Regions from separate parts of the Homo sapiens genome. Here region 2 is linked to region 1. The links come from fine-mapping of genetic effects on gene expression. A gene starts in region 1. The other region holds a variant in brackets. All regions are shown on one strand. Distances are from middle to middle.

Evidence for each region.
Region 2: its variant is fine-mapped to the expression of DAPL1 in esophagus mucosa (GTEx, PIP above 0.99).

Annotation. Positions count from the first base shown.
Region 1 is chr2:158,787,927-158,804,283 of GRCh38, reverse strand. DAPL1 (death associated protein like 1) reads right to left here and starts at 8,967. Exons shown (of 4, transcript NM_001017920.3): 1 at 8,854-8,967; 2 at 1-2. The coding sequence starts at 8,911. RefSeq lists an enhancer at 11,372-11,541.
Region 2 is chr2:158,842,837-158,859,193 of GRCh38, reverse strand. The region is part of intron 2 of LOC124907901 (a long non-coding RNA gene); the gene reads right to left. It also overlaps the pseudogene OR7E89P. Among named protein-coding and RNA genes, the nearest start is that of DAPL1, 56 kb to the right of the region's middle. The variant C/T (reference allele first, on the strand shown) is at 8,580.

The DNA of each region.
Region 1 (16,357 bases):
TACTACAAACAGATAAAAATCAGCATGGAAGTTAGAACAGTGAGAGAAGGCTTGCTTTGTTATTAAAGGTATGACTTTAGATTTGAAAATAATTTTTGAACTTATTTTTTAAAGATCTAAACGTTTGTATAAAACAACACAATAAAAAATATATATATTTTATTGGCAAACCAGGTGTGGGTGGAGGAAGGGCTGAGAGCTACTTGTTTATGCTCAGAGAAGTGGAACCAAGACTGAAAAAGCAGAGGTTACACCTTAGATTTGGGGAGGAGAATAACAACATACTCCCTTAGGCATTTCACTGAAAAACATTTTTTCTTATTATCAAACCAATTACATTCCCCACAATAGCAACCGACAATTACAACGTGACCCTCTGTTTTCCCACCAGATTAAAGTTGTGCGTGGCTTGCATTTTTTTTTCCAACCAAAGCTTTCAAAAGCCAGATTCTGAGAGATGAGCCAAAAGTCAGGGCACACAGTGATAAAAGGCATTTAATTCAACAGAGATGGTTCTGATTCTACCAGATACCCACCTTCCATCCAGACCCCAAAACTCCGGTGTTGGCCAAGCTCAGATGTTCTAATGAGTAATTAAACTGCATTAATAATCCTGCCATTCAAGTGATCAATTAGTGTTAATTAGGCTACAGATGACCTAACAGCAATTCAAGTGTTTAACAATGTCAGATGAAATCAACTTTTGAAAAGGAACAACCCATTTCAAGATAGCAAGTCAAAGCAAATGCTTTTTTTCTGTTCCCAGGAAATTTGCACATCTAAAATCTGACAAGCTCAAATGAGAAAAAGCTAAATGGACATTGATTTGTTTGAGCCTGTTAATTCTTTTTATGAAAATGCCAGATTGGCGATTTTCTAAAACTGTGGTCCAATAAAGTGAAAAATAAAGAAAATGTATTCTATTTTTCTGTGCCCTTGTCAACTGACTTCATCATTGTTCTTTACAATTATTACTTAATTTATTGTCTTGGTTATCTTATCTGCATAAGGCCCAAAATTCAAAAGCCATAAAAAGGTCTGCAGTCTCCCTCCTACAATTATTTTCCAACTTCCTAGATTATCTCCCAAGATACTGCTAATGTTATAAGCTTCCTGTGTCTTCATCCACAGTTATTCTACACATACACTCAGGTTTTATTTTTTATAAAATGGTAGCCTAAGGTACACATTGCTCTACATCTTGTTTATTTTCTTCACTTAATCACATATTTTAGAGAAAGTTCCAAATCTATATTTACATCTACATCTATATCTCTATATATCATCTGTGTGTTTTTCTTTTTAACATCTGCTTTAACATTTTATTGTATGAACATCCTGTGTTTACTTAACCAGTTCCCTAATGTTGGACATTTCATGTGTTTCTAATCTACTGCTATCACAAACAATGCTGCAATGAATATCCTTTTGCTACCAGAAAGAGGTGTCTTGATCCAGAATCCAAAAAAAGGTTCTTGGATCTTGCACAGGAAGAAATTCAAGGCGAGGCACAGAGCTCAGTGAAATAAGCAAGTTTATTAGAAACAATTCCATTACAGAGTAGGGTGTCCTCAGAAAGTGAGTGCACAAACACACTGTTTTTCAGTTTTTCTTATATAGGGGTCTTGTCTATGTAAAGACTAAACTGTGACTACATGCAGGTGAGCAGACAACATGACAAGATTTATTATTCTACTGATGTAAAGAAAACCATCCTTGACGATTTGGTGTGTGAGTACATCAAAGCATAACTGTTACTATCTTGAAAGCATTATCATTATGGGTATTGGCCCATCTGGACTTTCTGTGGTTCTAAGAGTTTGTTCTTGCAGGCATTACCAAGCTGCTTCCTCAGCTGTAAACATCTTAGCATCATGGGGTTGTGACTAGCAAGGAATGTGCCTCGCTCATTCTAAGATGGAGGTGATTTTCAAATGATGTCACTCTGGCTCTTTTAGGTTCTTGCTCTCCTAACAGTTTTAGATACATAATTTTGCACAAATACAAGCATACCTGTTGGGGAAATTCCTAAAAGTGATCTTGTTAGTTCTTAAGAGTATGCGTGTTTGGAATTTTGTTAAATCTTGCCAAATTGCCCTTAGCAGAGGTTGCACCAGTTTAGAATCTCACCAGCCATGATGACAGTTGTTGTTCCTCCATACCCCTGTTAACAACGCGAGCTACAAAGTGTTTGGTTTTGTCAGCCAGTAAGTTACAAAATAGATAAAGGTATATCACTGTTTTAATTCTCATTTCTCATGTTTTATTAAAGGTTGAGCTTGGTTCTGTGTTTTAGAAGCCATTTGCATTTCCTTTTCTGTAAGCTGTTCAAATCTTTTGTCCTTTTCAATTGGATTGCTAGTCTTTTTCCTATCTTTTTCTTACCGATTTATAGGAGCTATTTTTCCATGAGATACATTGCAAATATAAAATATTATATTGTACCAGTTACTGCTTTTTGACTTTATTGATAATGTTTTTGCCAGTCAGAAATTTGCTGTTTTTATATGACCTTGTCAATCTCTTATGGGTTTTGTATCACTAAGATCTGTTGTTTTACTATTCAACCATTCCTGCATTCATGGAATAAACTCCATTTGGTCATTTGAATTACCAAGTTTAAAAAATATTGATTTTTGTATATAAGCCTCAGAAAATGCTATCTTTATACATTATCTGCTTTAAATTATATATATATATGCACATTCTTTATATACATAAATTATTTATACACACGCATATGGCATACAAAGTAATCTGCAACAAAAATGAAATTATAGGGAAACATTTCTGAATAGCCATGGAATACAGGTGAAATAAATCAAGGGATGGGCTTTTTCCCAAAGAATGTTTGAGGCGTGTGTGCCTCTGTATGGGAGATGGTGACTGCTCATAGCACTGTTGCTTAATGCTAAGAAGAATCAGATAAGAGCTCTGGGGCCTTTGATACACCTCCCAACAGTATTTTTCATTCTCCTTATGACAAGTGCCTTTCATATATAGTGTGCTGTAATTATTTTCTTGTTAGTGTTCCTTTTGCTTTCCCTGATGCTATTATTCCTACACATTTTCTTCTACCTGGATTAATTATTATTACCAACTATAGAAGCAAAATTGTTTTAGTTAAAGATGAGAAGAACTGGCTGGGCGCGATGGCTCACACCTGTAATCCCAGCACTTTGGGAGGCCGAGGCAGGTGGATCACCTGAGGTCAGGAGTTCAAGACCAGCCTGACCAACAGGGCGAAATCCCATCTCTACTAAAAATACAAAAATTAGCTGGGTGTGGTGGCGATTGCCGGTAGTCCCAGCCACTATTTGGGAGGCTGAGACAGGAGAATTGCTTGAACCTGGGAGGCAGAGGTTGCAGGGAGCTGAGATTGCACCACTGCTCTCCAGCCTGGGTGACAGAGTGAGATTCTGTCTAAAAAAAAGAAAAGAAGATCTTTGGAATGCTGAGTTCTGTACCACTCATTTGGAAGGACATTGATAATCTGGGAATCTTCAGAGGAGAGTGACCAGAGTGAAGGCAGGCATGCTACATGAGGAACTAGGGAATCTAGTAAGATAACTCCTGAAGAAGCAAAGCGAGAGAACTTAGGGAGCCATCTTCAAAGATCTGAAGGGCTGTCATGAGGGCAGAGGAGCAGTTTACTGGTGAGGAAATGTTATGTAGGGTTGGACAACTCTATTCCTCCTAAGCTCTGTGACTGTGAGTAGGACACTTAAAACTGCTCTCAGACTGTCTCCACGTCCTTCAATGGGGAATAATACTGACTATTGCTGTCAGAAAATAGAGGTGACATAAGAACCTGGTGCATGGTAGGCACTTACTAATTACTAATTATTATTTATATTTATTTTATGTGGTTCCAGAGGTGAGAACGAAGACCAAAGACTAAGAGTTCTAGAAAGGTACAGTCTGGCTACTTGTAACAGCTTGTCTTATTCAACATGATATAGATTGCCTAATACAATAACGAGTTTTTTGTACCTCAGTGTATTAAAGTAAAGGAAAGAAGTTCTTTTGTCATGAATACCTTAGGAGAACTTTGGGGAATTCAGTGGAAGTTGAACTAGATTATGTTTATTATAAAGTCCTTATTATAATTTCAACTCTTTTCATCTACCTCTCAAAAAAATCCATCACTTCTTTCTCTTTGGAAAGAGCATAAGGCATTTAACAAAGAAATAAATGCCAAATTTTTTTTTTTTTTTTTTTGAGATGGAGTCTCGCTCTGTCGCCAGGCTGGAGTGCCATGGAGCGATCTCGGCTCACTGCAACCTCTGCCTCCCGAGTTCAAGTGATTCTCCTGCCTCAGCCTCCCGAGTAGCTGGGACTACAGGTGCCCGCCACCACACCCAGCTAAACCATAAACATGGGAATTCCTCATCCTTAGGAACAATAAGATAGACATTTTAGGGGGAAGAAGAAAAAGTCCTCCCCATAAAGATTCCTACTTCCATCCAGCAGTCTTTAAATCGTCTCTGTCATAGGGCTGTAGGCTCTAACTCAGCAATTTCGGAAGCATAAGGGAAACACACATTGGATTTCCAGAACAGAGTTCTTGTACCAAACTTGTTCTGGTAGCTGATCTTACTCAGTCATCTATGTACAGTAGAAAGAAGCGGAAGATAATATCCCTAGACTACAGATGGATGCACTGATATAGATTTGGGCTGTCACTACACTGGGGTGACTGAACCAGGTGGGGTCAGTTTGTGGGAGGGTTATCTTAAAATCTCTGCTGGGAACACTGATCACAATGATCTCCTGGGGTCTAGACAAGCCATTATTTACAATGCAACACAATCAGGTTCTTGCTCATTTTGCTTATACTAGATACCTCTGACTCAAGAGACCTTTTCAAAGTTTCACTGTATCCAAATCGATCCATTTAAGTTTGTAATCCTTTACGTAACTCCATGTTTGGGACTATCCTGCTTTTTGAACCTTTGCAGAAAGATCAATTGGAATTGGGCAAAGTAAAATATGAACTGATTTAACATTTTAACAGGATGTTGAGTACAAATATGTAAATTAAGACTTTCAGTCCTTTCAATAATGAAGATGAACTAGAGATAGACAATGTAAAAAAGGGAGATGCTCTTTTAGATAATTTCACTAGAAAACCTAAATTTAAGCGGGGAAAATGAAGCTTTGCTTTCCCATCTCTGCATGAGAATTATACTCTTGTGACTGCTTTTGTAGTTTATAAATTTTTAAAAATACATCAGTTAGTTTAGAATTCTAAATAATAATTTTCCAGCTAAGATTTTCCAATCTTTTTCACAGTTTTTGGTAGAGAGTAGTGAAGATAAACATAAGCCTGCAAAAAAATTAGGCTTTTTCCTTCACAAATCCATGGACAATGTATGTGAAAAAGCTGAAAGGCACAAAGGTTTGTGCAAACTCTGCCTTGTGAATGAGAACATCTATTTGAAGGTTTAATGAAAAGTTTAGATGTTTGCAAAATGCTCACTTTGCATTCACAGTTAATTTATCAGGAAATTTTAGGCTGCCAATCAAGACCCCCAAAACCCTCATCAAGAGAAGGTTGTGGAGCAAACAGAAAAGGCTTTAGAGTAAGAGGGCTTTGACATGAGGTCAGCTTCATTTTCCAATTCCAGCTCCACTTCCCACTAGCTGTGTGGCTTTCGGCAAGTCCCTCAATCTCACTGAGTCTCCGTTCACTCTTCCGTGAAACATCACCCATCTGCAGGGCTGTTGCCACGTCTAGAAGTCTCTTTGCTGTGCCAGGTGCAGTCAGCATTGAGCGAATGGCAGCTGTTCTTGCAGTCCTCAAATCCCTGTCCCCTGGGGCAGGAGGAGGTGAATCTCACAGCCTCTCTCTTCTAACTTCATGGTTCTGTCCTGTTCCAATGCCCCCAAGTTGACTTGAGCAGATGGAATTGAGAGATTCAAGCCTTTGGAGTGTGTGAGGGTTTTCAAATGACCGTGGTCCATATGCAGTTTATGGTTGTCCCCCATTTTCTGCATTAGTTTTACAATTGGTCATACTCCCCCTCCAACTTCCTTCTCTCTTTAATGAGTCAGAAAACATATTCTCTTTAGGGATTCAGTGGCAACACCTCTAATGGCTCTGATTCATTTGGCTTAGACCCAATTAAAAAGTGCAGGAAATATAGAAAAAGTCATGAACCACTGCTCTTCTTTCTATTCATCATATATCTGGCTTCCTGGGGTCAACTTCTACTCACACATTTTTGGTGCTGCTGTTCATATAATGGGGTTCTTCTGAAAGTGAGGGTGAGACAAATCAAAAAAGCAGAAAATTCCAAGTTCTTCTTACTGGAGCCCAGGCCACCTTGTGTTTTATGTAGTCTCATTTCACAGCATAAATGTATAACTAGGGCTATCAGAGATGCAATATATTATATTAATATACATTAAAGTGAAACCATTGACTGCTCCATAGATAGGTAGGAAAGAGATGCAGCAGGCTGACTTCTAAGTGATTTTTTTTTTTTTCAGACGGGGTCTCACTCTTGTTGCCCAGGCTGGAGTGCAGTGGCGTGATCTCTGCTCACCGCAATCTCTGCCTCCTGGGTTCAAGCGATTCTTCTGCCTCAGCCTCCCAAGTAGCTGGGATTACAGGCACATGCCCCACGCCCGGCTAATTTTTGTATTTTTAATAGAGATGGAGTTTCACCATGTTGGCCAGGCTGGTCTTGAACTCCTGACCTCAGGTGATCCACCCACCTCGGCCTCCCAAAGTGCTGGGATTACAGGCGTGAGCTACTGTACCCAGCTGAGTGATTTCATTTTTAACTGTGATGGGATAGGCACATATTTTTTCCATTGCAGTTTCTTTCTGTTCCAACTACTGCAGTAGTGTCTAATGCCGCTCCAGCATCAGGATGTCTTGAAATTGGGGAGGATAATTTCTTTTGATAGTGATGTGTTCTACCGGGCCTGCATTTTAAGGGGGCTAACATTCAGGTGCCAGATACTTTACAGAGGTGATCTCTTTTAATCATTACAACAAACTTACTAGATAGATGTTATTTATTGCATCCTGTTTCAGAGATGAGGAAACTCAGGCTCGAAGATGTGAAATGAAGTTGAGGTTCAAACCCAGGTCTGTCTGATTCCAAAGGCTATGTATGTCCCACCCTCCCCACCGAATCGTATCTTCTTCCCACTTTTAGGGATCTGTATTTTGCTTATAAAAATCAAGTGAAAAATTAACAGAATTTTGGCACTTGTTTTTGTTCCATAAATAAAATTTTGCACCACCACAAACAGATTCAGACTTAAAATTAGTGGCAAGACAGGCTGAAGGATGACACTTCTTTGTTCCCTTGTGCTCAGTGGGGAGGCAAAAGTCTGCCTTCATCTCCATTCTAATTATCCAAAACCTCTTATCTGTAGTGTCACAGTTCATAATAATTAATTGTCATGCCAGAGGCATTGTGACATGCTTGATGGAGTCATGGTGTGCTATGTACACAGAGTAATTAGCAATCATTAGTGGTGGGGACAGAAAGTTCCCGGTGGTTTCATTCGAACTTTCATTTGGTTAAGTTTATGTCTGTGTTCTTTGTGCATAAATGTAGTTTAGCAAAACAGGTTTCATCTTAGCCATTTTATGAAGGGTTGGAGTGGAAACAACATAATGAGAATGGAGTTCTTTTTTCTTTTGTCTTTGTCTATGTAAGGAGCCTGTCTTCCAATGATTTGCATATATACTTCCTGACTATTAGCTAGCATAATTAACTTTAAATATAGGTAATGTTAAATATTGCTAAATTTGATTACAAATATAAAACATCAGTAATCTACCAGAGGAGATCAGACCAAGATGTCTAGAGCTGGAAACTCAGAATGAGTAGTAAAATCTGGACTCTTTTTGGCCAGGCTACCCGCCGGAAAGCCACCAAAACAATGTTACATTTTGACTCTCTGTGAAGACAATACCCGCCATCACCCTCTGCAGCAAAGATTATTGAAATAACCTTGGCCTAGAGGTGCCAGAGAATTAGACAGTAAATATGTTTTTGTAAATGGAGAAAGGCAAGAACAAAGCAGTCAAGCTTTTGAGTTCTTTCTTCAGTAAAAAAGAAGGAAGGCAGTTGGAAGAATATAAAACTGACTAAAAATAGGCCTGTACACCTCAGCCAATCTATATGAACATATGGTTAAGTACAATAAAACTAATTTCCATATTCCAGAGAGTCAATATAGATAGCATAAATTAAAAAAAAAGACAACTATGGATGCTTTGCAAACACCTTGACAGCTACTTTTTCCAGTCAGCCTCCTCAAGTCCTGTGTCTTTATTTAAAAGTACTTCTCAGCTTGTTGACAGGTAAATACATCCCCAAAGCCTGAGGAGGGAGAAAGAAATGTGATTGTTGTCCTCTGTGCAGAAGCTGCTTTGCCTGGGTAGGAAGTCACATGATGCACAGGCATCTTGGGGAGACTGAGTCTTACAGCTGGAACCTCTAAAGAGAAAGGTTTCCATGGTAGCAAATCATCTTCCTGGTGTAGATGTGTCACTGCTAATCTACAGCCAGGGCCCCGTGAAAGGAATGCTGCCTCGAGGGAGGAAAGGTGCAACCTCTCTACCTATGCCTTTCCACAAGCCCCAAATCCATACACTGCCGTAGGTAATTAGGTTTTAACTCACTGGGGGTCTGACAAATCCCCGGGTGGATTTACATACAAGCTAAGAAGGATCAAAGACATAAGAGGAAGTCAGGCTGCATGGAGTTAAAGTCATACTGGGTAGACAGAGAAGCTTCCGTCTGTCGGGGTGCTCCATGGAAGGCATTGGTGGAAGAGGGGAGCAGCAACAGCCTGCAGGACTGAGGGCAGGTGGCAGCCTACCTGCAGGAGGATGTCCCCCTTTCCGAGGGGAGAGCAGGTCTTGCACTTCATTTGCCATAGCGTGTGCCAGTGCCAGTGCCAGTGCTGGTGCTCTGGAGGCTGAATGCCAGCTGTGGCTGCCCCACCACCGCACCGGCTTTATAAAGGCAGGGGGCAGGGCCCCTTAAGGGCATTGCTGAGCAGCAACAGGGCTTGTCATCCAGCTCTCTGGGAAACCTGCATCTCCTTGGCAAGTTTTCTCTTAGAAGAAGACTTTCTTCTTCCCTTCATCTGGGAAGGCAAGGTAGATGTCTGCAGGAGACAGGATATTCTTTTCTTTCTTTTTTTTCCACAGGAGGAAAGGGAGAGGATGGAGTTCAGTGGAATTCTTTTTCTCTCCAACCGTTGATCCCTCAAGTGTGTATAGTGCACCTGCAATGTAACAGGCTTTTGTCATATTCTGGCATGACAAGGGGGCCAAGACAAGCTCTTTGCTTCAGGACATCTGTAGTCTTTCTAAAGAGACAGGTATAGAGCAAAGTCCTGTGCCTCTGTCCCAGTTTTTGCAATTATAAGCATTTATACTAAGAAAATAATTGGAAATGTATACAGAGATTTCTGCGCAAGGATGGGAATCATATGCTTCTTTTCTTTTTAAAATATTGATGGGAATCAAGATAAACATCTCCAAATACAGAGGGATAGTTAAGATGAATCAAGAAATCACTGTGAGAGTATACCTTACAATCATGTTTTCAAATAATATTTAATGATGTAGAAATATTAACGATAAGATAGTGAAAAAGTAGACAAGAAACCAATCAATGCCAATTTTGCTAAAAAGGAAAAATACAACTTTAAGCTTAGCCATTATTGTAATTCCAGCGCCAATAAAAGTTTAGCATGTGGCAGATATTTATAAAAATTTCTTTGTTCTTCAGTACAGTTAAAAAACAACTTGAAGAGCAGTTGTCTGCTCTTCGAAAAACCCTGTTAAGAAAATAAAAACAAGCTACAAACTGGGAGAAAATATCTGTAAAATGCATTTCTGATGAAGTACCGACATTTAGAATGTATAAAGAATTCTTACAACTCAATAATAAGAAAGCAGACAACCCAATTAAAAATGGGCAAAAGATTCAAATAAAACATTACAAAGTAAGGATATTGACAACACATAATCACACAAAAAGATGCTCGACATCATTAGTCATTAGGGAAATGCAAATTAAAGCCACAATAAAATACCACTACATATGTATTAGGATGGCTCAAGACAAGAAAAAAAAGGAAAATACAAAATGCTGGTGAAGACGCAGAGCAACTGAAACTCTCATACATTGCTGGGGGAAACGCAAAAAAGCAAAGGTGTTCTGGAAGTCAGTTTGACAGTTTCTTATAAAATTCAACATACACTTACTATATATGACTAACAATCCAATTGCTAGGAATTCTCCCAAGAGTGATGAAAACATATGTACACACAAAACCCTATGTGCAAATGTTTATAACAGCTCTATCAGGATTGCCAAAAGTTAGAAACAACTCCGAAGTTCAACTGTAGAATGGGTAAACAGATTGTGGTGTATCTATATCATAGAATATAACTCAGCAATAAAAAGGGAAACATGGATGAATCTCAAAAGCAACACGTTAAATGGAAGAACCCAGACTAAAAAAAGCTACTTCCTATATAATTCCATGTACATGACATTCTTGAACAGTTGAAACCCTAGGAACAGAAATTGGATCAGTGATTGCTGGAGAGCGGTTGGGGAGAGTGGCTTAATTACAAAGGTGAGGAGGTGACTTTTTGAGGGTGATGGAAATAATTTGTATCTTGATTGTAGTGGTTGTTACATTCATCATACGTCATACACACATCACCTTAAAAGGGTGAATTTTACCATATGCAAAATATGCCTCAACAAATGACAAAAAATCTGTTTGTAAATAAATGAATGTAAATACTCCAAAATGTTAAGAGTGGCATTCTGTAGGTGGGAGTATTACATGTGGATTTTTAAATCTTCTTTCAGTATTCTGTATTACTTTTTAAATAAATAAAAACTAATAAAAGTTTTTTTTGAGGGAAAAGTATGGTAAAGTGTTGCGACAAAGGTTGGCACATTTTTGGGAGCAAAGAGGAAACATTCATATCATCTAGCAGTTATTTTGTGAGTGGCCTTTCCTGCAGGGCCCTGGACTAGGAGCTGGGGTTCAGAGATGAGAAAATCTCATTCTTGCTTTCAGCGATCTCACATTCTCATGCGGATATGGACATGATGAGAAGGTTAACAGAATTCCTTCTATGATTGACAAGGTTTATTGTGGCATTATTCCTCAGAAATTTCTGAGAAGATGGAAATGTTTGTATCTGCTCTGACCAGTGTTGTAGCCACAAGCCACACATTCATTTGAGCACTTGAAATGTGGCTGGTGCAACTGAAAAATTGAATTTTTAATTTATTTAAAATTAAATAGTTTTAATTAATAGAAATAGGAATAGCTACATGTGGCATGTGACTCTGGTATTGGACAGCATAGGTAGGTAGCATAAAGCCTAGATGTGTGACTGTTTGGTACCAGATTTTATTGGTTATCTTCTATATCTATAAGCTGCGAAAGTGCAAAAGGCAAGGAGGAAATCAAAGGGCAACCACCCCTTAGGAGAGCCTGCACCTAGGACAGCCTAAGTGATGTGGAGGAATGAGTGGTTGGACCAGAATATAATGCATGCCCAAGCAGAGAAGGCTTCTTTGGGGCAAATACTCGATTTATCCATGAAGTAATGTTAAACAGGATTTCTTTTCACATCATTCGCATGTAAAGCCTTCAGTTCACAGATGTACATTGTGACCCTCCCCAGGGGGATTTAGTAGGCAGCATCCGCAGAGCATTTTTCATCATGAAAACGTTCGTTCTCATGGCCCTAAAAAAAACCCTTAGAGGGCCAGGATTGGTGGTGCACGCCTGTAATCCCAGCACTTTGGGCAGCTGAGGCCAGCCTATTGCTTGAGCCCAGAAGTTAAGAGACCAGCCTCCTGGGCAACATGGAGAAACCCCATCTCTAAAAAAAATATAATACAAAAATTAGCCAGGAGTGGTGGCACACGCTTCTGGTCCCAGCTACTTGGGAGGCTGGGGTGGGAGGATTGCTTGAGCCCAGGAGGTCAAGGCTGCAGTGAGCCAAGATCATGCCTCTGCATTCCAGCCTGGGCGATAGACTGAGAGCCTGTCTCAAAAACAGAAACCAACCAACAAAAACCCCCTAGAATTTGTGTTCTTGGCTTGGTGGGGTGTTGTGCACCTGGAGTCCCAGCTACTTGGGGAAGCTGAGTTGGGAGTATTGCTTGAGCCCAGGAATTCAACGGCAACATAGCAAGGCCTATCTCAAAATAAATAAATAAGAAAGAAAGAGAGAAAGGAAGGAAGGAAGGAAGAGAGAGAGAGAGAGAGAGAGAGAAAGAAAGAAAGAAAGAAAGAAAGAGAGAAAGAAAGAAAGAGAGAAAGAAAGAAAGAGAGAAAGAAAGAAAGAAAGAAAGAAAGAAAGAAAGAAAGAAAGAAAGAAAGAAAGAAAAAGAAAGAAAGAAAGAAGGAAAGAAAGAAGGGAGGAAAGAATTTGTGCTCTTGAAATCCAAGTTGGAAAATTCTGATCTAAGGGAACGGGAGTAGTGGTATCCACAGGGTGATGGTAAAAGGTAAGTGGCAAAAGCAAAAATGAGGCCAATGTGGCCTCCTCTGGGCCCCGCCCAGCACAGCCTTCCTGCCCTGCCACTCTTTCTGCTTCCACTGGAGGAGGCCCAGGGTCCCAACTCTGTCTCCCTCTGTGTGTGCTTAGGAGCACAGGGCAGCCCCAAAGTGGGGTGGGGTCTTCCCTTGCCTTCTCTTTATGTTCGTCATGAAAAGCCCAGGCCTGTTTTGTACACTGTGAGGTAAGTGGAGCCCAAGTGATTTACTCTGGGGACATACTGGAGCTTCCATCAGGGTGAAAGTCTCATGGAAAGAAGACAACATGTTATTACTCTTTAAATGGGCTTATAAAGCTCACTTTAAAAATGGCATCAGTCGAGTTAACTGCAACAGGAGAGCAGTTCATGCTAGGACCAAAGTATTTGAAATTGTGCTTTGTAATGCAAAAAGCCTAGTAAAATGGATTCTCACGACGTTGAGGTTGCCAGAGAGCTTTCTGTCTTAAAATGAAAGGATGCTTTAACATTAATCATATTTTAAAATCATACAACACTTTCATCGTAGTATTGCACTTTCTTCTTTTAATTTGTATGTGGGAGACATTACCTTCCTCATGCACCTGTATATTTGCAGGGTGCATCTAATTTTTATATTTTCTTTTTTCTCTTAACATTAGTTACATGCTGTACCTTATGCTAAGTTCTGAAAGTATGAGAAATCTATGTTAGAAATCAGGGGCAAGAAAGCTAACTGGGAGGGTGGTGACTCTTAGGTGGTGGGGTGGTGTCTTAATTTGTTTTCTATTGCTTACAACAGAATACCTGAAACTTGGTAATTTATAAAAATAAGCAGCTGGGCATGGTGGCTCATGCCTGTAATCCCAGTACATTGGGAGGTCAAGGCTGGAGGATTGCTTGAGTCTAGGAGTTTGAGACCAGCCTGTGCAATGTGACAAAACCCTATCTCTACAAAACATGCAAAAATTTAGCCAGGTGTGGTGGCGCATGCCTGTAGCCCCAGGTACTCAGGAGGCTGGGGCAGGAGGATCACTAGGCAGAGGTTGCAGAGAGCCAAGATCTCGCCACTGCCTGAGGGATAGAGTGAGACCCTGTATCAAAACAAGAACAAACAAACAAAAAACAGTATTCAGTTATGGAGGCTAAGAAGTCGAAGGTGGAGGGCATGCATCTGCTGAGAGCCTTATTGCTGGTGGGGTCCCACTCTCTGCTGAGTCCCAAGGCGGCACAGAGCTAACCTGCTCACTCGGGGTTTCTCCTCCACTTCTTTTTAGAGTCTCACTCTATCACCCAGACTGCAGTGCATTGGCATGATCTTGGCTCACTGCAACCTCTGCCTCCTAGGTTCAAGCAGTTTCTCCTGGCTCAGCCTCCCAAGTAGCTGAGATGACAGGCATGTGCCACCATGCCTGGCTAACTTTTGTATTTTTAGTAGAGATGGGGTTTCACCATATTGGCCAGGCTGGTCTCGAACTCCTCAAACTCCTGACCTCAGATGATCTGCCCACCTTGGCCCTCCCAAAGTGCTGGGATTACAGGTGTGAGCCACCATGCCCAGCCTCTCCTCCACTTCTTATAAAGCCACCAGCTCCCCTCCCAGGATAACCATTAACCCTTTTTTTGAGACAGGGTCTCGCTCTATTCCCCAGGCTGGAGTGCAGTGGCTGTATTATGGCTCACTGTAGCCTCAAACTCCTGGGCTCAAGTGATCTTCCTGCCTCAGCCTCTCGAGTAGCTGGGATTACAGGTGTGCACCACCACACCTGGCTAATTTTTATCATTTTTGTAAAGACGGGTTTCACCGTGTTGGTCAGGTTGGTTTCGAACTCCTGGGCTCAAGCCTTGGTCTCTCAAGTAGCGCAGGCTACATATGTGTGCCACCATGCCCAGATAATCTTTAAAAAATTTTTAGTAGAGATGAGGTCTCTCTATGTTGGCCAGGCTGGTCTTAAATTCCTGAGTTCAAGTGATCATCCCTCTTCATCCTCCCAAAGTGTTAAGATTACAGGCTGCACCTGGCCCCATTAACCTATCAATCCATGAATGGATCAATCTGTTCAGAAGAGCAGAGCCCTATGGTCACCTCTTAAAGTCTTCACCTCTCCATACTGGCATATTGACGATTCAGTTTCAACATGAGTTTTGGAGGAGACATTCAAACCATAGCAGGTGGTTTAGAGAAAGCCCTCTCCAAAGCATCTTGCCTCCTGTTTTGTAAGATGTCTCTGAGCTTCCAGTGCCTGTCTAGACATTTTAACTCCAGTTTCTCCCTGTAGTCTATATCCATGTGTTTAGGTGCTTTGCTTTCTCTTTAGATTTCATTCAGTATTTTCTCTGTTGTTTCTCCATTATATGTTTTCTAGGTGGGGTGTGTTGGGGGGTGCGGTATTATGGGAGTTACATTATGGAGAAAACTGTGCTTACCAGCTTTTTTGGTCTGTTTTTTAGATATAGTGTGTCTTTCTCTTCCCTCTCTCCAAAACACTGGGATTTTCCTTTCATCCGAGGACATTTTTAATTCCTAGTATTCTTTAGCAGAAAGCACTCATTGTTTTCTCTCTCCATTTGCTGGACCTGAAACAAAGAATCCATTAATAATTTGGAGAGGTGTGTAAGGATCTTTCTTCCGAGTTATCATGCAGATAGACACTTTTATGTATAGGGATTCCCCCAGCAACAAAACAATCACAATTCTGTGTGCAGGAATATAGAAACACAGTTTAGAAGTTAGCCAATCTTGATAACAAGGTAAACAATGAAGAGTACATTTTTTCTTGCCTTGGGGTCTTGAAGTTTTAGTGGTGAGTGTTGGAGCCAAGAGGCAAATAAACTTAATTGGAAGATAATAATAGTTCACTTTACTTTTAGAAATACACTCGAGATTAGTTAAAACACAAATTTCTGCAATTCCCTACCTTCCACATCTTCTATAAAGCCAAAATTTACTGACCCCATTTTACAGGTGGGAAAAGGCCATAAAAGGAAACAAAGAGAGGTAAATTAGTCGTAAAACATAACAAGATGGCAGTGGAAAGATCAGAAGCTGCTACTGATCCATTGTCGGCCCAGTCTTTATTATTGTCCAGCAGCTTGAAACCCGCATTGGGCATCTGAAAAGTCATGCCAGGAAGCTGTATAATGCACCACTAATAAAACAGCTAAAGGACAGCATACTGTCTGAGCAGCGGATGCTAGTAAGTTATCTGTTACAGGGTTTTGTACCCTTTCCATGGGTTGAGATGTTTCAGGTATCAAAGATTCTGAAATGAATTCCAACCATAGCCAGACTAGGCCATGGGAAAGACATACCTGGAAAGAGGGCCAGCCTTTTGTGGGCCAAGATGTGACTTTTTTGGACCAGTGTTTACTTCACTAACTGCTTCCCTCTTCTCTCTGCCAAGGACCCTCCCTGCCTTTCCTGTTAAAGGAAAAACTAGAGCTGGAAATTTATATAAAATGCAGTCTTTATAGACATTTTTACTCTAGTTTTTTCCTTTAGTCTATATCCATTTGTTTAAGTGTTTGCTTTCTCTTTAGATTTCATTCAGTATTTTCTCTGCTGTTTCTCCATTATATGTATTATAGGTGGGGTGTGTGTGGTGGGATCATGGGAGTGATTATGGAGAAAACATTCCCTTGGTCCTTGGGCTTAAAAGACCAAGACATTCTTGCCTGTGGGCACCATCTCTTGGTGCCACTCAGGGTTCAGCGGTGAATTTCGGAGCCTGGAGATCCCTTTTCATGAATCTGGGCCCTTGTAGTCATGATATGATGACTCCACTTCACTCTGTAAGTCCCATCCTACTGTTGGGAAA
Region 2 (16,357 bases), 55 kb before region 1:
AGGAGAGAGCTTGTGTGGATTCTTCGCTTCTTTCTTTTCTTTTTCAAGATCCAAGTGCTTTAATTTTCATCTTTTAGTATGGGAAAATATACCACGTATAAATCCTAAAAATTATAAATAGAGATTCTTGCATATAGAATGGCCAGTATGAACATTTACAATTTCCACTAGTTTTCAGTTTAGAGTTTAATCACATTAGGTACATTCACATTGTTTTGCAACCATCACCGCCATCATCTCCAGAACGGTTTTAGCTTTCCAAATGGAAATTGCACCCATTAAGCAAACTCTCCATTCCTCTCTCTCGCCCACCCCTGGGGGCCACCGTTCTATTTTGCAACTCTATGAGTTTAACTACTCTAGACACTTGATAGAAGGGGAATCATACCGTGTTTAATTTTCTTTGTTTCTTTGTTTTGGAGACAGTCTTTCTCTGTCACCCAGGCTGGAGTGCAGCGGCATGGTCTCGGCTGACTGCAACCTCCACATCGTGGGTCCAAGCGATTCTTGTGTCTCAGTCTCCCGTGTAGCTGGGGTTACAGGCGTGCGCCACCACGCCCAGCTAATTTTTGTAGTTTTAATAGAAACGAGGTTTCACCATATTGGCCAGGCTGGTCTCGAACTGCTGACCTGAAGTGATACGCCTGCCTCGGCCTCTCAAAGTGCTGGGTTTACAGGTGCGAGCCACGGAGGCTGGTCGTGTTTATCCTTTTGGGATTTATTTGTTTCACTGGCGATAATGTCTTCAAGGTTCATCCATGTTGCAGCCTGTGTCAGAAGTGCCTGCCTGGCTTTTTCGGTTTTTTATTATTTATTTATTTATTTTTTTGGTTCTGTTTTGTTTTGTGTTTACATGGAGTCTCACTCTGTCACACAGGCTGGAGTGCAGTGGCACAATCTGGGCTCACTGCAACCTCCGCCTCCCGGGTTCCAGCGATTCTTGTGCTCAGCCTCCCGAGTAGCTGGGAGTATAGGCACGCGCCACCACGCTCGTCTAATTTTGTGCATATTCAGTAGAGACAGGGTTTCACCAAGATGGCCAGGCTGGTCTCGAATTCCTGACCTCGGGTGATCCGCCCACCTCGGTCTTCCAAGATGCTGAGATTACAGGCGTGAGCCACGGCACCGGCCAGAAGTGCCTGCATTTTTATGGCTGAATAGTCTTCCGTTGTATGAATGAACTGCACTGTGCTTTTTCATTCATCTGCCCACGAACCCTTGGGTTGCTTCCCCATTTTGGCTGTTTTGAGTAACGCTGCTATGAATATGGGTGTACAAATCTCTCTTCCACTCCTGGCTTCTAATTCTTTTTGGTGGGTACCCACAAGTGCAACTGCGGGAACATCTGATCATTCTGTTTCTACTTTTTCCAGGACAGGCCATACTATTTTCCCCATTCCTTCACGGTTTTACATTCCCTCCAATCAGATTCGAGCATTCCTACTTCCCTCTAGTTTCACCAAGGCTTGTTCGTTTATCATATCCATCCTAATATGTGGTATCACATTCTTGGTTTGATTTGCACTTCCCCATGATTAGTGATTTTGAACATCATTTTAGACGCTTATTGGCCATTGCTCTATCTTCTTTAGGGACACGTCTACTCGAGTCTTCTGACCATTGTTAATGGGGTGCTTTGGGTTTCTTGTTGTTTAGTTCTAGCTCTTCTTTATATATGATGGATATCAGCCTCTTTTCAGAGATATGATTTGCAAATCTTTTTCCTAATCCATGGGTTATCTTTTCACTGAGTTCACAGTGTTTGCTGATGCACGAAAGTGTCTGTCGTTTAGATGTCATCCAAGGAATCCAATTTTCTTTTGTTGCCTATGCTTTTGGTGTCATATCCCAGAAAGCATTGCCCAATCTGATGTCGTGAAAGTGTGGCCAATGTTTTCTTTGAGGCATATTATACTTTCAGCACTGGGGGTGAGGTCTTTGATCCAGTTTGTGTTCATTTTTGCACCTGGTGTGACATAGGGTCCACCTTCCTTCTTCTGCATGTGGAAATCAAGTTTCTCCAACACCATTTCTTGAAAAGGCTGCTTTTCCACCAATGAACTTTCTTAGCACTCCTGTGAAAAATCATTTGAACATATAGGGAAGAAGTTATTTCTGGGCTCGAAAACAAACAAACAACAACAGACAACAGACAAGGATACAGCATGGCCCGGGCGCGGTTGCTCACGCCTGTCATCCCAGCCCTTTGGGAGGCCGAGACGTTCGGATCACCTGAGGTCAGGGGTTCAAGACCAGCCTGACCCACAGGAAGAAACTTCCATCTCTACTACAAATACAACATTAGCTGGGCGTGCTGGGGCATGCCTGTAATCCCAGCTGTTTGGGAGGTGGAGGCAGGACAATCGCTTGAACCCAGGAGGCAGAGGTTGCGGTGAGCCAAGATTGCACCATTACACTCCAGCCTGCGAAACAAGCGCAAAACTCCGTCTCAAAACAAAAAACCAAAAACAAAAAAACCAGCATGATTTCAAGAGCAGAAAGAGAATAGCTGAAAAACCAGCATAAGGAGAAAGTTAGGAAGCTTCTTACCAAAGCATCTGGAAATATGCAAGAAATTCTTGTGAACTAAAATTTTCATACTGTGCTGTCAAACACTAGAACTCACTTATTCCATCTTTCTGTATTTTGGGACCCAATTATCCCCTTCTCTTCATTCCCCATCCCACCCCTTTTCTTCCTAGCGTCTGCTAACCACCTTTAGACTTTCCACCTTCCTGAGATTCCTTTTGTGTGTAGGTGTGTGATGGCATCTCTTTCTGTTGCTCAGGTTGGAGTACACAGGCACAATCCGGGCCCACTGCAACCTCCGCCTCCCGAGTTCAAGCGCTTCTTGGGCCTCGGCCCTCCCAGTAGCTGAGACTACAGGCACGCGTCACCACGCCCGGCTAATTGTTTGTGTTTTCCGTAGAGACGGGGTTTCACCATGTTGGCCAGGCAGGTCTCGAACTCCTGGACTCAAGTGATCCGTGCGACTCGGCCTCCCAAAGTGCTGGGATTACAGGCCTGAGCCACCACACCTGGCCAAGGTTTCCTTTTTTCTTTCTACATAGAAGTGAGGACATGAAATATTTGTCATTCTGTGCCTGGCTTCTTTCATTTAATATACAGACACGCAGTCTCATCCATTTTGTCTGCAGCAGAGAGGATTTTCTTCCTTTTTAGGCTGAATAATACTTCATTGGGTGTGTATACCACAGTTCCTTAACTGAAACAAATTTCTAAAGAGCAAATATTTTTAAAATGTCTCGGAATGTGAAACTTCAGGGATACTGTGCCCATTTTATTCTTTTCTATTTCCCATCTTAGGTATATGCAAGTGTATAACAAAGCAGCAATCAATGTGTGTATAAATCTATAACTTCAACAAATGTAAAATGTAAATGCTAAGTGGTGGCTGGGCGCGGTCGCTCACACATGTAATCCCAGCAATTTGGGAGGCGGAAGCGGGCGGATCACCTGAGGTCGGAAGTTCAAGGCCAGCCTGACCAAAACGGAGAAACACTGTCTCTACTAACAATACAAAAAAAAAGAAATTAGCCGGGCATGGTAGCGCACGCCTGTAATCCCAGCTACTTGGAAGGCTGAGACAGGAGACTTGCTTTAATACGGGAGGCAGAGGATACAGTGAGCCGAGACCTTGCCATTGAACCCCAGCCCTGGCAACAAGAGTGAAACTCTGACTTGAAAAAAAAAAAAAAAAGAAAAGAAAGGAAAAGAAAGAAATAGAAAATGCGAAATGGTAAGAAAAAACAGCATAATAAACATTTGTATGCTGTTGATGGACAACGCATTTGAAGGTAATATATGAGGAAATCATATCACAATTAATTTCTGTTCTTACTCATTGGAGCTTGATGCCTCTGAAAACTTCGTCTTTGGAACCACCTCCGGTGGTTTAAAAGAAAAAAAAAATCCACATACTCACATAGGTGCAAGGAAATCAGAATCTCAGGTATTGAGACCCAGGCCTCACCATTTGTAAGCTCCCCAGGTGATTTGACTCAAAGCCAAGATTGAGGAATGGCGACCTGGATCTCTACACGTAACCTGCCTAAATCGATTCTCTAGAAGCAGTTTATAAAGAAATTCCACATGAACTCTGGAAGAGGATATGAATTTGATTTACAGTATGTCCTCACTTAACATCTTTGAAAGTCTCTTGGAAACTTCACCTTGAAGCAAAATGATGTATAGTGAAACCACTTATTTTTCATCAACAGTATAACTACACAACTTTGAACAACCAGTGGTGTTGGAGGACCTCCTGTACATTGTTTCCATAAAGTCAGTCTTCAGGGAATTCCAAAATGAAGAGAGGACTTCGTGTATATAAAAAGATGGTTGTGATTCCACCTGGATGACAGGGTTATTGCTCAGAAACTAAAAGAGGCCGCCTAGGTATAGAGGATTCTGTCATGAGGTTCCTGCTAAACAGAGGATCCCAGAATACTGACCCATTCCAGTTAAAGGCATAACGAAGAAAGCAATATTCACAAAGGAAATGCAGAAAGGAATAAAAGCCATCAAGCCACAAAAAGAATGTGACTAAGGGGCGGGATTTGCAGATGCAGAGATTTAATGTGGTTGCCCTTTCTCACCCACACAAGAAAAAGGATGGAACAGATCATGAGATTCCACTGTTCTGCTGCGCAGCCTCCGCAGGGCACTTTGTATGTCCCTGTTTCTCAGGCTGTAGATGAAAAGGTTCAGCATGGGGGTGACCACAGCGTACATCACTGACGCCGCCACACCATTCCTGGGGGGTGGTGACAGAGCTGAAGTCAGGTACATGCCAATGCCTGTTCCATCAAATCAGCAAACAACTGCTAGGTGAGAGCCACAGGTGGTGAAGGCTTTATACTTCCCATCTGACGATGACATCCTTAGAATGGAGGGGACAATTTTATACTAAGACAAAAGGATCCCTGAAATGGGAAGAAAACCAAACATAGTACTATCAAAATATATGAATATGCTATTGGTGACGCTGTCAGAACAGGCAAGTTTGAGAAGTTGAGAGGGGTCACAGAGAAAATTAGAGATTTCCACATTCTTGATGATGGTGAATTGTAACACAATCCAACCGTGCAGCTGGGAATCCAACAGGCTAAGGAAAAAGGACACCAAAACGAAGAAGACACAGAGGTGAGGATTCATGATGACTGGGTAGTGCAGAGGGTGACAGATGGCTACAAAGCTGTCATAGGCCATCACAGTCAGGAGCATGTCTTCTATACATGCAAAAAGGACCAAGAAAGACATCTGTGCCAGGCAGCCCGCATGAGAGATGACTCTGCTATGCGACTGCATGTCCACAATCATCTTGGGAACCGTGGGCGAGGTGAAACCGATGTCAGCCCAGCACAGGTTGGAGAGGAAGAAGTACACGGGGGTGTGGAGGGGAGTCAGAGCTGACAGCCAGGATGCTGAGCAGGTTCCTCAGCACCATGACCAGATACATGGACAGGGACAGGGACAGCAAAGCGAGGACCGGCAGCAGTTCTGGATCCTCTGAGAGTCCCAGGAGGAGGAATTCTCAGACACCTGTGAGATTCCGTGGCTCCGTGTGTCTTGGACACCTTGAGAAGGAAAGAGGATTGGAAAAATAAAAGATAAAAACCAGCCCTTAATGCTGGATGCGAGCAACTCACAAGGAACATTTTCACACTTGCGGACCATACACCGCCAGCAATGTTTCTCAGTTGTGACAAATCCAAAAATCTCAGAATTATTACGTGGTTTACTTTTTTGCTATACAAGTCTTTCTGTACATACTACTTTAGAGAAAATCCACTGAAGAATATTAGAAGACCAAATCCGTGATCTCAGTAAAATACGGCCTACTCTTTTCAGAAAAAATACAATGCAGTGAAAATGTCCTTCTCTCTTTAAGAAAAAGATCTCAGTCTAATTGAAAGAAATTAAGAAGCCGTGAAATACACTCTGTTTTATTCTGACACCGTGCTACAAATTCCTTTGACGTAGAATATGTAAAAGGACGACACAAGAGCTAGGACCCCATTATCTAAAAACGAAATCGAACCTTAGAGTTCTCAATCGGAACACCTTTTCACATGCCTGTTACTTTTCATATTTATTATCATCCTTAGGTTTTCTGACATCATTTCTTCATAGAAGTACATGCACACTCAAATATGGGAGCTGTGTTTCCAAATGAATTTAATATATAACTCTTGGCCGAGCGCCATGGCTCACACCTGTAATCCCAGCACTTTGGGCGGCCGAGGCTGATGGATCACCTGAGGTCAGGAGTTCCAGACCAGCCTGGCCAACGTGGTGAAACCCCGTCTCCAGTGAAAATAAAAAAAAATTAGCCGGGCGTGCTGGCGGGTAACCCTAGCTACTCGGGAGGCTGAAGCAGGAGAATCCCTTAGAACCTGGAAGGCAGAGATTGTACACCCTGTGATAGGATTTTTGATATCCTAGGGAGATATTGCTCCTGACAGCAGAGTGAGCGTACACCCTGTGATATTGTTTGTAATATCCTAGAAAGATATTGCTCCTAATATCACGGTGGCTCTACACCCTGTGATATTAATTGTAATATCCTACAGAGATATCACTCCTAATAATACAGTGGGTGTACGACCTGTGATATGATTCATAATATATTACGGAGATACGACTCCTGATATCACAGCGAGTGTACACCATGTTTGCACACCCTGTGATCTTATTTGTAACAACTTAGAAAAATATTACAGCTAATATCAAAGTGGGTGTACACCCTGCGATGTTATTTGTTATCCACTAGGTAGATATTACTCCTAATATCACAGTGAGTGTACACCATGTGTGTACAGACTGTGAAATTATTTGTAATACCCTAGGAGGATATTACTCCTAATATCACAGTGGGTGTACACCCTGTGATAGTATTTGTAATCACCTAGGGAAATACGATTCCTAATATTACAGTGGGTGTACACTCTGCGATGTTATTTGTAATGTCCTAGGAAGATATTACTCCTAATAGCAAAGTGGATGTACACCACGTGTGTACACTCTGTGATATGATTTGTAATATCCCAGAGAGATATTTCTCCTAACATCACAGTGGGTGTCCACTCTGTGATATTATTTGTACTATCCTAGAGAGATATTGCTCCCAGTATCACAGTGGATGTACACCCTGTGATATTATTCATAATATCCTAGAGCGATATTACCTCTAATATCACAGTTTCTGTACACCCTGTGGTATTATTCATCATATCCTAGGGAGTTATTATCCCTAACATCACAGAGCGTGTACACCATGGGTGGACACCCTGTGATGTTATTGGTAATATCCTAGGGGGATATTACCCTTAATGTCACAGTGGGTGTTTACCATGTGTGTACGCACTGAGATGTCACTCGTAATATCCTAGGGAGAAATTACACCTTGTGTTACAGTGGGTGTACACCATGTGTTTCTATTCTGTGATGCTATTTGTAATATCTTAGAAAGTTATTAGTCCCAGTGCCACAGTGGGTGTATACCATGTGTGTCCACTCTGCGATGTTATTCGTATTATCCTAGGGAGACAGTTCTCGTAACATCACTGTCGGTGTACATCATGTATGTACTCCCTGTGGTCTTATTGGTTATGTCCTGGTTTGATATTACACCTAATGTCACCGTGGGTGCACACCATAGGTGTACATTCTGTGATGTTACTCGTAATATCCTAGGGAGATATCACTCCTGTTATCACAGTGGGTGTACACCCTGTGATAGTATTTGTAATATCCTAGGGAGATATCAGTGTATACCCTGTGGAATTATTTGTGACATTTGAGGGAGCTATTTCTCCTAAAGTCGGAGTGGGTGTACACTCTGTAATATTCTTCCTAATATCACAGTGGTTGTACACCGTGAGTGATATTTTTTTCTAATATCCAGCGAGGGAGAGGATGATATTGCTTCCAATATCATGGAAGGTGTACACCCCCTTGTGATATTGTTCCGAATACAGGAAGGAGAGGATGACATTATTCCCAATATCACTGGGGGTGTATCACCTCCTGCCGGGATATTGTTCTTAATATCCGGAGGTGGAGAGAATGATGTTACTCCCAATATCCCAGGGGGTGTACACCACCCCTGTTTGTAAACACCCCCTGTGATATTGTTCCAAATGGCCTGTGAAAGAGTCAATATGACTCCCATTTTCGCAGGGGGTGTTCAGCCCTGATGATATTGTTTTCTAACATCCGGGGAAGGAGAGTGTGCTGTTACTCCCAATATCGCAGGGTTTGTACACCTTTTTGTGTTTTTGGGCCCAATATCCAGGAAAATAGAGGATGATATTACTCCCAATATCGAAGTAATTGTACAGCACCCCTGTGATATTCTTCCTAATATCCAGAAATGAAAAGAATGATATTACTTCCAACAGTGTCAGAAATGTATACCCGCGCTGTGATATCTTTCCCCATATCCAGGTGGGGAGAGGATCATTATTATTTCCAATGTCGCAGGCTGTGTACACCCCCTCTGTGATCCTGTTGCTAACATCCAGGTTTGGGGAGGACGACATTACTCCCAATAT[C/T]ACAGGGGGAGTACAACCCCCGTGACCTTTTAGTCATTTCCTGGGTGGAGAGGATGATATTACTGCCAATATCGCAGGGGGAGTACACACCCTTGTGAAAATCTTCCTAATATCCAGAGGGAGAGAAGATGATATTACTCCCAATACCGCAGGGGGTTTACACAGCCCTGTGATACTCTTCCTAATATCTACAAGGAGAGAGGATGATATTACTCCCAATGTCGCAGGGGGTGTACATAACCCTGTGACATTGTTTTTAATATCTAGAGCAAAAGAGGATGATATGACTCTCAATATCGCAGGGGGTGTACATCCCTCCTGTCCTATTGTTCTGATTACCCTGGGAGGGAGAGGATAATGTTACATTGAATATCGCAGGGAATGTACACCCTCCCCCTCTGATACCCTTCCTAATGTCCAGGGGAAGAGAGGAAAATTTTACTCCCAATATCGCAGAGGCAGTACACCCCACCTGTGATGTTGTTCCCAATATGCAAGGGTGGAGAGGATGATACTATTCCCAATATCGCAGGGCTGTTCACATCCCCAGTGACATTTGTCCTAATACCTAGGGGAGAGACAATTATATGACAGCAAAGTTCGCAGGATCTGTACATCCCTTCCTGATATTGTTCCTAATATCCAGGGGGGAAGAGGATGATATCAAATATGAAAGGGGGTGTACACCCCCCACCCCTACGATATTGTTCTTAATATTCATAAGAGGAGACTATGATATTACTGCAAATATCGCAGGGGTTGTTGACACCCCCCTGTGATATTGTTTCTGATATCCGGGGGGTGGAGAAAATCATATTACTTCCAATATTGCAGGTGGTGTATACCCCACCTGAAATATGGCACGGATTATCCAAAGAGGGAGACGATGGTATTAATACCAGTATCAAAGTGTGTGTACACGCCCCTTGTGATATGGTTTTTAATATCCAGTGGGCGGGAGGATGATATTAGTTCCAACATCCCAGAGGCTGTACACTACCCCTGTGATATTGTCCCTAACTTCCAGAGGGGAGAGGATGATATCACTGCCAATATCTTAGAAGTTGTACATCCCCTGTGATATTGTTCGTCATATCCATGGAGGCACAGGATGACATTCCATTGATTTTCGGGACAGGCGTTCACGCACAATGTAATGTTGTTCCTAATATCCAAGAAGGGAGAGGATGATATTACTCTCAATAAAGCAGTGGGTATACATTACCCCTGTGTTATTGTCTCTAATATCTGGGGCCAGGGGAGTGGGGAGAGGATAACATTCCCTCAAATTTAGCAGATGGTTTGACGCCCCTTGCTTGTGGTGTTGTTTTAAATATCCAGCGGGGAAGACAATAGTACTATTTTTGATAGTCCGATTCATCTGCTCCACCTTTCTGGAACTCTGAGGCCGGGAGGCGGCATGCAGTTTCCGTGTGATCCCCAATACCTTTGCCGTCTTCTGTACCAAGGCAGCCAAAAACGCAGGCCCGTTATCTGAGCCGATCCGTAAGGCCAGTCGAAATCTAGGAATCAGATCTCAAAGAAGCACAGGGGTTACTTCATGAGCTTTCTCAGTTCGTGTTAGATAAGCCTCCACCCAACCAGAGTAGGTACGCCCAAGAACTAGTAAATACTTGTTACCTCCACACTTTGGCATCTCTGTGAAGTCTACCTGGAGATTTTCAAAGGGGGCTGCTCCGTAAGCTTGTATGCCGGGTGGAACGGCTGGACCTTGCCTCGCATTATGCTGTCGGCAGGTAACACACCACTACCTCACCGTTTTGGCAAGGGCTGACAAATGCGAGATGTACAAATACCAGCCTAACAACTTTTCCAGTGACTCCTGATCTACATGGGTGGTTTCATGCACAGCCAGTACAACTGCACCTCCTAGCAAGTGTGGCACAGCTACTCTCCCATCTGGTAACCGAATCCATCCTTCCTGCATCACTTGTCCTTCCCTCTACCTGGAGAAAGTCCTTTTCTTCTTTAGAAGAAGTAGGTCCAAGATCAAGTGCTTGAGGGAGCACTGATGCCCGGAAGGGGGCAGATGCTGCTTTTCGAGCCTCTGAGGCAGCGCGCGAATTCCCCAAACGCAGCAAGGTGGAAGCTCGCTGGTGTCCTCTGCAATGCACAACTGCCACCTTGTGGGGTTTCCATACTGCTTCTAATAATTGCAAGATTTCTTGTTGATATTTTCTGTCTTTTCCCCCAGAGTTCAATAGGCCCTTTTCTTTCTATCACGCTCCATGCACTTGAAGGGTTAAAAAGACATACCAAGAATCAGTGTAAATGTTGACAGTCTCACCCTCACTGAGTTCTAAGGCCCGAATGAAAGCAATGAGTTCAGCTTTCTGGGCTGAAGTGCCCTGGGGCAACGATCTGGCTTCAACAACAGTGTCCAGGGTTACCACGGCACACCCTGCACCTCTCTCTCCTTGGGGGTTGAAGAAGCTGCTCCCATCCACGTATAGTTCCAAGTCTACTGATGCCCAAGGCTGGTCCTGGAAGTCAGGTCTGCTAGAGTCAACTGAGTCCAACACTTCTACACAATCAGGCTCGACAGGGCTCTCTGATACCGGGAGAAGGTGGCAGGGTGTAGGGTGTTACAAACTTCAATGGTTATACGGGGATTTTCACAGAGCAAAGTTTGGTACTTGGTGAGCCTGGCATTCATTAGCCAACGATGTCCTTTAGTATTCATTAAAGTCACCACAGCATGGGAGGCCTTTATGTTCAGGTTTTGCCCAAGAGTCAGCTTATTTGCTTCTTGTCCTAGCAGGGCAGTTGCTGCCAAGGCCCTCAAACAGGGGGGCCATCCTTTAGAAACCCCGTCTAGTTGTTTAGAGAGGTAGGCCACCGGCCTCAGCCAGGGCCCCACAGTTTGGGTTCAAAGTCCAGCTGCCATCTTTTCTCTCTCTGATGCATACAATGGAAAAGGCTTTGGCAGATCAGGTAGCCCCAGGGCTGGAGCTGCCAGAAGTTTTTCCTTTAACTCATGAAAATCTTGCTGTTGTTGGGATCCCCATTCCAAAGTTTCCCAGTCCCCACCCCATTTGTGACCTCATACAAATTCTTGGCTATTACTGCAAAGTTTGGGATCCACAGTCAACAAAACCCCACAGCTCCTAAGAATTCTCTCACCTGCCTTCTGCTCTTAGGCTCCGATAGATTGCAAATGACCTGCTTTCTTTCTGATCCCAGGCTGTGTTCCGACCCGTCGGATAGTAAATCCCAAGTAACGTACCTGCTGTCAGCAGATCTGAGCTTTCTTCTTGGACACCTTATACCCACAGTCCTCCATGGGCTGGTGTAGGGCATCTGTTCCCTTGGCGCACCCCACTGTAGTGGGGTGTCCCAGCAGAAGGTCATCAACCTCGTGGAGCAACATGCAGCCTAGGTCTCTGGTGAGAAACTTCTGGAGGTCTCGAGCCAACGCCTCCCCGAAGATGGTGGGGGAGTTCTTGAACCCTTGGGGAAGCCCGGTCCAAGTGTACTGACTAGTGACACCTGACTCCGGATCATCCCACTGAAAGACAAGCAGCTTCTGCCTCTCATGGGCTAAGCTGATAGGAAAGAAAGCACCTTTCAGGTCCAATCAGGTGAACCAGCTGTCCTCAGCTGGCAGCAACCCCAACAACGTGGACGGGTTAGGTACTGTTGGAATTTGAAAACAGGATATTTAAGCTTTTTTCGCTGACAACCTGAAAGAGCCGCTACTCAGGTTGGCGTGAACTCCATCCCTGGATAATGCAGACCTGCTTCTGTAAACCTCAAGTCTGTATATTACCCACTTTGATGGTGAATAGCCACTGGGGATGAGTTTTTCCATGATCCCAGGGAAAAACTCCATCATCAATTGCTCTGAAGGGCATGACGTTATTATTATCATACTGACCAGAATAATTTATGCTGTAAAATTGCTTTGAAGTGATGTTATAGAGCTCAGAGAAGAGAGGTTTCCTTGTGGGGAATTGTGGATATTTGAAGCTTACCTTGTCTTTTTTTTACTTCTTCCCCATTATAATCACCACCTCAATCTCTTAGATAGGGTCCTCTGAGTAGTATTAACCAGTCTTTGCCACTTTGGGTGCTAATGCTAAATACTTTGCCCTTAAGAATCTCCTGTGACCAGTAAAACATCATCATCTGAATGTGCATTACACAGTTGGTTTCCACAACTCAGTGATTTATAAAGCCTGGATAGTAGTAGTATTTGAATGTACATAAAGGCAACAAAGAACACAGCTTTATGAAGTGCTAGACAGGGTAGAAGAGTGAAGAAGAGCTATAAAACTTCAGGTACAAAGGACTAGGGGAAGTCTGAGTACTCAGGCAGAACATAACTGTAACAAATGGAGCTAAGGGCTTTCCAAAAACTAAAGGTAAAGAGAGAAATCCTCGGTAGAAGGTCTCACCCAGCAGGAGGTCTGCAAAGGAAGAGGCCCCTTGGGCTGAGAAAGCTGTTTAATGTGCAGTTGACAAAGGGCAGGGGAGGTCTCTGGAAATGTTTATGGGAATGCTCCAGAATTTAATCTGACACCACCAGTCCTGTGAGCTTTGTGCTCTGGGCTCCTAATTAGCAAAATAGAGACACGGGGATTGTGTTTGTCTCACTTGAAATGATTCAGTGTTTATCTTGGCTTGATTGGTCCCAAAGTACTCATTTCACAAAGACCTGTGATGCCTCGTGGGAAGACTTGCACTGCTATTTCCTCAAATTCATGTTCCTTTTCACTTGCCCTTCAATGCCAAAATTGAGAACCATAAAAGACTACTCCTTTTGGCCATCTGGCTTTCTGCTGGCATTAACATTCAATAAAACAGACAGACCCAAACCTTTCCTTTCCCATATAGGGTGAATATTAAAGTGTTTTATGAGCAACTGATCAGGTTCTAGTTCAAGAGAGAAGGCTAGATGTATGGCACAGCAAGAAGGGCATGTATCTTGAGGGCACACTTACTGGCTGTGTGACTTTGGGTAAATTGCTTAACTTTTCTGAGCCTTAGTTTCTTGGGGATGATAATAATACCTACTTATTTGTCCACTGTGAACACTTCATCTATAAAATAGGACTTGCCTGCTCTTTACCTCAAAAAAGAAAATCTAAAAAGAAAATCAAAAAAGAAAATCTATGTGTAGATGTGTTGTAAGCAGTGAAATGCTACATGTAGAAGCAAAACAGGTCATTATATTTTCATCAGATTTGAGTCATTCACTCTTCTATGTTCCAAACATTTTAAAATGCTTTTTTAAAGTCAGAAAACAACATGAATGAGAAGTTACCTGTGGGTCCCCAAACCTCCATTTTGAGGGGACTGGAAAATAAAGCAGCAAGGTTAAGAAAGCTTTCAGAATTCATCACAATGAGAACAGAGTCAAAACTGGAGAAAAAAAATGTCTTACACATTCTTCCAGACAAAAGGGCATTTCAAGTATTGTCTTCAAAATTCAGTTTGGAAAGTTATTAGCTTATAAAAGTGAGTTGTATGTACTTGACAATGCTGTGGAAACTCAGACACCCAGAGGTCCTCAGTCATGGAAGAATCAGCTGTAAATGATTTGTTTTGAAATAATTATCTTAATTCTTGACTACAATAGAATGTTAAAATGGAAGTTTCCACTAGGTAACAAGCTGCAATAGATGTGATATTCCAAAGTGAGCCTCTGGGCTGCCATACGCAGAATGAAGAAGTAGTGTCCTGACTTCTGAACTCCCTACCCTAGAGGGGGGTGAGGCCTGTGTGTGGGATGGGGTGGGGTACCACGGAACCAGGGGTCAAGCAGGCATGGCCTTGAGGGTGGATGCATTCTCAGTGATGGGACTCTAAAAACCCACAAAACTTTCCACAAAAGAAAAAGTGGTTTGTGATCAAGCCATCAATAAGAAACTCAGAAACTTCTCTGATTCCGTTTCCCCAGTTTTGCCCACTCAGGTGAGTAAGCAGGGATGAGGGAGTGGGCTAACTTTGAAAGTTCCCTTCCCTCCTGCGGATATTCCCCAACAGCAGCCCTAAACCCCTGGGAGTTTTGGGTTTCACACTGGATCAGGTATTCTAATGGCTGAGTAAAGACCTGCTGGGACCATGAAACAATTACTCCCTGAGGACCTGAGAATGAACGAAGTCATGGGGCTGCCCAGGTTTTCTGGCAGTACCACCTCCCTAGAGATCATTCAGAAATATGTTGGAGTGTGTTTTGATTGACACAATGATTGGCAGGGAGGATACTCTTGGCATTTAGAGGACAAGGGCCTGAGATGCTCGATATCCCAGTAACCCAAGAACTCTCCTGCTTGAAATATTAACAGTGCTCCCAGTTGAGGCCTACACTCATGGAGGCAGGGGCAGGATCACCCCTTCCCTGAACAAGTTTTAAAAAGACAGTGGAACCTATGCCAGGCAGGGAAACCAGAACTGTAATTGATGACCTGCTGGAGGCTCAGTGTGAACAAGTCTGAGAAGAAAACTCCAGAGGGACCCAGTTACTTTTGTGAATTTTACCTGCTGGAGGTCAACCAGGTTCTCAGAGTAAATATCTGAGAAAAATAATAATAATAAAAAAAAAGACAGTGGGAGACAAAAATAGAAATACATTTTCATTATGTTGCCCTTTATGCTTATTCACCATATCTATTACGCTGAGGCTACAAGTATTTTGCAGTGACTTGAGAGCTCTTTCCCACAGCTGCTTAATTACATTCCAGCTGCTTGGATGCATTAGAGCCAGAAGCAGGCCATGAAGTGGGTGAAGGACCTAGCAGAAGGTGCTATGGTGTGCTGCGGTAGCCTGAACCCCTAAAAGCCCTAGCCCAGGTTAAACTTGCTCTGGTGACTGAAGACCAGGATCAGCCCCAGGTTTGAGAAAACCTGGCTGGTCTTGGTGTGGTAGCCTGAACAATGTCTACGTTCTTAGCCCTGAAATCTGTGACTATGTTACCTTCCATGGCAAAAGAGACTTTGCTAACATGATTAAATTAAGATGTTGACATGGCAAGATTATACAGATTGTCCAGTAGGCCTGCTTTATTCACGGGTGTCCTTTGAAGAGGGACAAGGGGATCAAAGTCAGAAGAAGGACACATGATAACAGAAGCAGGAGTTGGAGTGATGCTTGTTGGAAATGGGGGCATGAGGCCAGGGCGGCAGCTCACGCCTGTCATCCCTGCACTTTGGGAGGCTGAGGCGGGCAGATCACCTGAGGTCAGGAGCTTGAGACCAGCCTGGCCAACATGGTGAAACCCCATCTCTACTAAAAATACAAAAATTAGCTGGGCATGGGGATGTGCACCTGTAATCCCAGCTACTCAGGAGGATGAGGTGGGAGAATTGCTTGAACTTGGGAGGTGGAGGTTGCAGTGAGCCAAGATTGCACCACTGCACTCCAGCCTGGGAGACAGAGCAAGACTCTGTCTCAAAAAAAAAAAAAAAAAAAAAAAAGAAAGAAAGAAAAGAAAATGGGGCATGCATGTGGCACTAGAAGCTGGAAAAGGCAGGAAGATAGATCCTCTTCTAGAGCCTCCAGAAAGGAACACAGACCTGCCAACACCTTGATTTTAGCCTGCAAGACCCATTTTGGGCATCTGATCTCCAGAACTGTAAGATATCCAATATGTGTGTTTTTAAAAGCCATTATATTTGTGGCAATTGGTTACAGCAACAATAGGAAAATAATTTACCTGGTTTAAAGTGTAATATAAACCTTTCTACTCAAGAGAACTTAGCAGTTCTCTCAAGTTCACCCGAAGAACCCCCAAATCCCAACACAACCCTCTCTC